Linked DNA regions of Homo sapiens. The protein of the gene in region 2 purifies or fractionates together with the protein of the main gene of each other region. This does not show direct contact. Each region holds a gene or a part of one and is shown on either strand. Other genes may lie near its edges. The genes, in order: KSR2 and RBM27.

Region 1 (3,823 bases), on a different chromosome or scaffold from region 2:
AGGAATGAAAAATGCATTAGAGAGAAGGGCTCATGGCCAACCCATCTATAGCCAAGATGCCCATGGACTTCAGGACCCAATGCAGGGCACTAAGAAATAGAGACACATCCTTCACTGTGTGGAGGCAGGCAGAGACAGAGACAGACACAGAGACAGACAGACAGAGAGAGAGAGAGAGAGAGAGAGAGAGAGAGAGAGAGGTCTGTAGAGCCAGAGAGGGATGCAGAGCAGGCCTGAGGTGGCCTGAGTACTGGTCTGACTCCAGCAAGCACAAAACTCTCCTCAGACATCTTCCCCCACAGGACACCAAGGCTAACAGTAGGAACCAGAGCATGCTGGGGAAAGAAGTCAAGGTCTCCACATCTGAGCCAGGGCACCCTCTGTTTGGAGATGGAGACTCCAGGGTCCCAAAATCAGGCTTTGGGGAAAGCAGGGAAAGGCAGGCAAGTGCCAGGGGGCAGGATTTTAGCCACTTGCAGTTACCCTCAATAAATCATGATCTTGCCTCTGAGTCCACACATAGGCTGTTCCTTCTGTCTGACACACCGTTCCCTACCATTCTACTCAAATTTCAAGACAGGGTTCAGAAGTCTCCTCCTCTGAGAATCCTTCCTGGAGGGTCTTTCTCTGGGTTGGGAGCTCCTGTGGGGCCTCGGGACCCTACTGGAACTCCTCCCTCTCTTCATCGGACTCCTAGTACCCTGAAGGCAGCACCCACTTTTCTCCATTTTTTCCAGAATCACAGGAGGCACTTAACAAATATTTACTAAATGACTATATAAAATGAAGATTTGGGGAATGAAGGGACAAGGTTGCTCCACGCTGGGCTCTGCTGAGGGTGTAGTGAATGGGGCTGGGGACATGAGCCTTTGAAATACAAGCAAAATTTTCTTAGAATCCTTCGGCTGCTCAACTGTAGGCATTTGAAATCCACCAATGTACCCAAAAATAGGGCTATGAGGAAACTAGAGGACCGGGGCCCAGAAGCAGTGCCTTGTGGAATATGGGACAGCTATGGGAGCTCATGGAGAACAGAGACTCCAAATTGGATGCCATCTTGGAAGTGGAGTCAGAGAAGCTCATGTGACAGCATGCCTGACATGCCACCATATGGGCTTCTGGCCTCTGTGCTCCAAGCCTTGGGGCTTTATGAGGATTGATTCCAGACGCAAAGTCAGGGTGTGTTTTGATGGGGTGGGGAGTACAATCTATGATATTCCTTGATAGGTTAGGACCGCAGAGGCCCTCAGGAGGAGATAGACTTCCGAAAAGAAGGAAGAAGGAGCCAGGCAAAGATTTATGCATCACACAGTTGGGCAGAAGCCTGACCAAGGACAGCCCCTCCCTTAATGCTCCAGTCGAGCCAGGACTGTCCAGATAGCTTTGAAGGGGCAGGGTGTGCAGTGCTCCCTAGAAGGCTGGCTAGGAGGGAAAGGGGGCCGGGGCAGGGGGCCTCGGTGTGGCAGGGCAAGTACCTTAGAGTACCTTGATGCCCATGCTGTAGCTACATAGCAGTTACTTGAACTTACACAAGTTCATATGTACCCATCTAAACATTATTACTTGTAACACATGTAGAAAAATAAGCAGAGGAAAATGGCTAGAATCTTACAGGACCAATACATTACATTTGTTGTCCAGGACGCACTTAAGCTGCCAATGCCCCAACCTGGGCAGGGCTGTGTTGGGGAGAGGTTGACCCCATCTAGGGCAGAGCCCCAGCCAACTCAACTGTCTTCTTGGAAGGTGTCCCAATTCCCAAAGCAATTTTCCAAGATCTGGTCTTTTGCAGTGCCCGACTCGTCCTCTCTGTTACCCTTCCCAATCCTGGGACTGCCGGAAGCTCCAGGGATTTGATTCTAGGGGTAAAACAGCTGGACCTACAGAGGCCATCCTCACCCACTGCCTGTCTCCATGCCCAAATCAGTCACACGGGACTGGACAGAACTGCCACATCTTGTCCAGACTGTCTATGTTGTTGCTTCATTGCTACCAGAGACAGCCATTCTAACCCGGCCTGACTCTCTTCTTCACAGTGAACTGGGAATTGCAAGGAAGGTAGAAAAGGCCCTTCACTATCTGGGAGACTTTCCTTCCTGGGGAATACAGAAGGGCTTTCCCTGAGTAGCCTCAGAAAGCAACACCAAGATTGCCGGATGCAAGTCTCAAGATTTCAGCTCAGCAAGAGGATCTGCTTCTTAGAAGGGCTGTGGAAGGATGGAGAGAATGACTGGAGATTTCAGCCCCTGTCCGTGCAGACGGTGAAAGGCAAGTCCACATTCTCCTTACCTAGACAGCCTTCAAACCACTGGTGATGCTAACTAGTGCTTTAAAAACCTATTTCCCTGCAATGTTCACTTAAGGAGTCCCCTCCTTGTGTTTTCCTGTTCTCCTCTGATTTCCTTTCTCCCATGGAAGGTTGCAGATGGCAGGATGCTGGATTTGAATCCTAGTCGCGTGGCCTGGAGACAACTCAGGGGACATCTGGCAATGTCTGGAGATGGTTTTGGATGTCACACTTTGGATGTCAACTGGAGGCTTTTGAAATCCACCAACATACCCAAAAATAGGGCTATGCTGGAACTAGAGGACCGTGGCCCAGAAGCAATGCCTTGTGGAATATGGGACAGCTATGGGAGCTCATGGAGAACAGAGACTCCAAACTGGATGCCATATCAGAAGTGGGGGTCAGAGAAGCTCAGGTGACACCATGCCTGACATGCCACCATATGGGCTTCCAGCCTCTGTGCTCCAAGGCTTGGGGCTTTATGAGGATTGATTCCAGACAGCAAAGTCAGGGTGTGTCTGGGGATGTTTTTGGATGTCACCAGTACCAGGTGCTACTGGTATCTTGTGGGGAGAGTTGAGGAAGCTGCTTAACATCCTCCAATGCCCAGGACAGTCGCCACCTCAAAGAATTATCTGGCCCCAAATAGCTCAACAGTACTGAGGTTGAGAAACCCTGGCTTAGAATGAACATCTCTTTATCCTTCTCTTCCTTTAGATCTTGACTTAAATGTCACCTCCTCAGAAAGACCTTTGTCAGCAGCTCTCCCACAGTATACCCTCTCCCATGTTTCTGGTCCCCCGTGAGTTTTCTTTCCATAGATCTACATGAGTTGCAAATTTATATATTTGTGGTTGACTTGCTTCTTGTCTCTCTTCCCCATTGGGCTTTAGGCTTCAGAACAGGTGAGACATTGTATCACTCATCACTGAATGCCCAGGGTCTAACACATAGTAGATGCTCAACAAATCACCCACTGAATGAATGGTTGGTGAAGAAATCTCTGTCAGAGAGGACAGAGGTTCACTGAATTCCAGACAAACCCAGAATGCCAGCATCTGTGTGAGGACACAAAGACCTCTCTTCTACCTTGTTCATCCTGTCGCCCACCACTCAGAAAAGGCCTCTGGTTATTGTTGGCCTGTATTTATTTCCTCCTGATATCCTGGTACCAGCCTTTCCAAAATTCTCACTGTAGTGCTGGAGGTCAGGGTATTTTTAAACTAGAAGAACTAGCCAAGCTGGTTTTTTTTTTTTAAGTGGTGGAAAAGAAAAACTAAGATTTGTTTTTAATCATTAGACTTTCAAATTTAAGAAGGCGCGATGCAAATAGCATGTTGGCATAAACAAGTGCTGCCCGCTCAATGGAGGGAGGGAGCCTTTCTTCTGAGCTAATTTAAGCTAAATACATGGCAGCTATTTTTCATCTCTACAATTGTGCAACTTTCTCCTCAGTTTACAATACAGGGGAGATATTATCGGGCAGAAGTTGGATGGGGGATAAGTGAAGACGAGAAGGAAAAGAAGAGGCAGTGG
Region 2 (3,382 bases):
CTTCCCACTGCACATTCCAGCCTGGGAATCAGAGCAAGACCCTGTCTCAAAAAGAAAAAAAAAAGGTACATATCTATATTTGGTAGGGCTATTTTGATACATCAGTTTGGTATGTCCCATGAGTCATAATGTTTGGTGTTAGGTTATGAGCATTTAGACCCTTCAAGGAATGGTGGGAATTTTTCCCTTAGAACACAGGACGATGTCTGTGCAGGCAGTAATGGATTTATGAGTCTGCTCTAATGTACATTCTCACCATGCTATGCTCCAAGTGTTTTATGGAAACATTTGGCAAATGCTTCAGGAGGTTTAGCAATGATTTTGCTAGATAGACTAGAATGAAAGCCCAAATAAAAAAGAATCTCTTCTATTATGTTTTTTAGAACCCCCAGTTCTATAAATGAGGACCTTTGATAGGAAAGCTATAGGGATGGCTAAACTTCTACTTTTCTGAAACTTTGGATCCCTAGTCCCTTGTCTGTGTTGCTTTGTCTTTAAAATTTGCTTTCCCCTATTGGAATTTGCTGGGGAGAAAAAAATGTTTAAAAATTAGTACCAAGTAACATTTGAAATGGAGCAGTTTTATGAGTTAGGATAGTATTAGGCATTTGTTTAATGTTTATTGAATGCATAGATGAGCTGGGAGGTGCTTATTAGTGTATAGCGTTTCAGAAGTGGAAATAAGAAGAACTTTATCCAACATAGGTGGGGCTGTGAGAGATGCAGTGAGATGAATAAGCAGATGATTCACCTTTTTTCTAAGGTTTGAGTCTATATATGTAGATATCAAAGCCAAAGGTCAATACCTGTATTAAGAATATTTCTTGTCCTCATCATGACTTTTGTAAGTAGAGCAACTCTACTTAGAAAAAAAATTATTTCTTCAACCAAGACAGATGCTAACATTTACCTGACACAGATATAAACCATGGGTTATCCTAGGCAAACCAGAACATATAGTTGCTCTAATTAAAAGGGACTTTATTTTTTTTAGCTCTCATTGGAGATTGTAGATCCACCTTAACAGATTTCTCTCCTGCCCTATGTTATACTTTTTAAATAACACAGAATTTGCAGAAATCATTAGTAAATTTGAGTGCAAACTTGTATGTTCTTCTAATATATATTTTAGACCGCAAACCAAGGGCCAAAATTTAAAGACCGTCGGCTACAGATATCATGGCACAAGCCCAAGGTACCATCTATATCCACTGAGACTGAAGAAGAAGAAGTCAAGGAGGAGGTAAATTTAGTGGTTGGAAATAAGAGTTGAATTAGATCACTTCTCAATTATGTATTTTTTATGATATTAAATAGTATAAATTAAAAAATGCTGGGTTTTTCTTTCATGCATGCAAATTAAGACCCGTTTAGATGTTTATTAGAGAATTAAAACAGGTCTAGAGATATAAGAAGCTGTGTTAGGGGTTATTTTCTTCTGATATAGGAAAGACTGTTCTTTTTTGTTTACATTTATATTGGATTTATTTGAGCTCTAGAAATTTTTATTCTGATGAATAAAGTCAGAGATTACATAAATGAATTAAACTTTAATTGGTTGGTTTCACTTTTTGTTTATTCAAGTTCCATAGTAATAGATTTGAGTTTCTTATTTTCCTTCTGTGTACAATTGGTTAAAATCAGAGTGTGCAGAAGTTGAACATAGAGGAGAGAATTGGAAAACTAAAGACCTAAATAATAAAAGTACTGAATAATCAGCTTCTTAAAATATATGAGAATTTATTTTGCTTTTTTACTCCTGTTGTTTATCATTAGTTTATTTAGTGAACACTTAGGCTATATTGCGAGGTTTTCCTGATTTATATGACAATCTTGGTTTTAAAAGATACCTAGCTAGCATTTATAGTTTGATCAAGTGTCTTCTCACTATATAGGTAATTTTACACAGCAAAAGCAGAAATGTTCCCTAGATTAAAAGAAAAACAGAAGTCATGGTATTTGGGTAGTGTTTGCAGATACATCTACTTTGTCTAAGATTTTAGATTTTTATATAAGATTTGGAATATCAGTGTCATGGGGAAGCTAGTATATTCACCTCTCACAAACAATTGGATGGATATAAAAACAAAGATTTAGGTGTTTGGTCATTTATTTTCCTAATTTTTTATAGAATAAAATTAATTTTAATTTATCAGAAATGTATCTCATAGTCTTTTTTAAATTTTCTGTACTAAATGTCCACATTATTTTCCTGATGATATTAGAGTAGAAATCTCCTATTAAAAGTAGCAAAATTAGCAGGGGAGAAGAATTCATATTCATTTACAAAAATATTTTGGGCTTTTTTTTTTTTTTGCCCTGAAAGATACTCTTGCATGCATCCCTTATGAAATCTAGCCTGGGCTTTGTATACTAGCCTGTTTGTCCTTTGGCCTAAAAAGTATTTTACTTACCATTCTTGTGCCACTAAGCAGATTTTAACCTCTCTTTCTTCAGGAAACAGAAACCTCAGATTTGTTTTTGCCTGATGATGACGATGAAGATGAAGATGAATATGAGTCTCGCTCATGGCGAAGATGAAATCTGATGCTAGCTGTATAATTTTTAGGAATATTGTTTAGAAGAACAACTTTTAAAAATTATTTAAAAGAAGTCAATGAGCCAAAAAAAATTTTTTTATTTTTCTTTTCAACACAGTAGGTTCAAGAACAGCAAGTTTGCTATTTAAACACATCTCATAACTGTACATGATATTAAAGCACCAAAGGCCTAGTGACTTTTACACAGTTGTGAAGATCCACAGCAATGACATGGATAATCTCTAGAGCCTTATTTTCCACACCACCTTTTTTTTGTTGCTGTTGGTGTTGGATTATGATGTAAATGACAGGGTGTTCAGAAATTTTATTTTGGATTATAATCTACTGATAAAATTTAATTAAATGTCAAAATCACCTGTAATCTTTTAACTCTCAGTTGTTATGGATGGGTCATCAGACAGTAGGAAATATTTGTAATTAAAATACCCTTTTGCTTTCAAGAGTGGTCTTGGAAGAAAAATATGTTTATTTTAATTTTAATTTTTTTTTTTTTTTACTTTGGAGGAGCCCAATTTGTATTCAGTCTAAATTTGTTTTTCATGGTTTTTATGTGTGGTAGTACTAGTTCAGTGAAAATCACAACAAACTGTGTGTTCTTAAATGCTACAGCAATGGTAGCTAGCTCTATAGTATTTCCATTCTCTTGTCATATGAACTCCTGGACTTTTCCTGCTACTGATTCTTAGTTTGCTTTGATATTTAGTGAGCGCTGGTTCGGCTGGTCTTTTTAAAAATTTTTATAACTCAGAATGTAAAAGGCTTTCACCTATTGCCCCTTTCTCGTCCCCCTTTTCTTCCTCTTGCCTTTCTATTAATAGGCC

The links.
Region 1: the proteins of RBM27 (region 2) and KSR2 purify together in Homo sapiens (co-immunoprecipitation; one large-scale study listed by IntAct). This does not show direct contact.

The regions. Positions count from the first base shown.
Region 1 is NC_000012.12:117,454,873-117,458,695, forward strand, and holds part of KSR2 (kinase suppressor of Ras 2), read right to left. Parts: 3' UTR 1-3,823. UniProt on the Homo sapiens protein: Location-regulated scaffold connecting MEK to RAF. Has very low protein kinase activity and can phosphorylate MAP2K1 at several Ser and Thr residues with very low efficiency (in vitro).
Region 2 is NC_000005.10:146,283,490-146,286,871, forward strand, and holds part of RBM27 (RNA-binding protein 27), read left to right. Parts: intron 1-1,132; coding exon 1,133-1,243; intron 1,244-2,457; coding exon 2,458-2,541; 3' UTR 2,542-3,382. UniProt on the Homo sapiens protein: May be involved in the turnover of nuclear polyadenylated (pA+) RNA.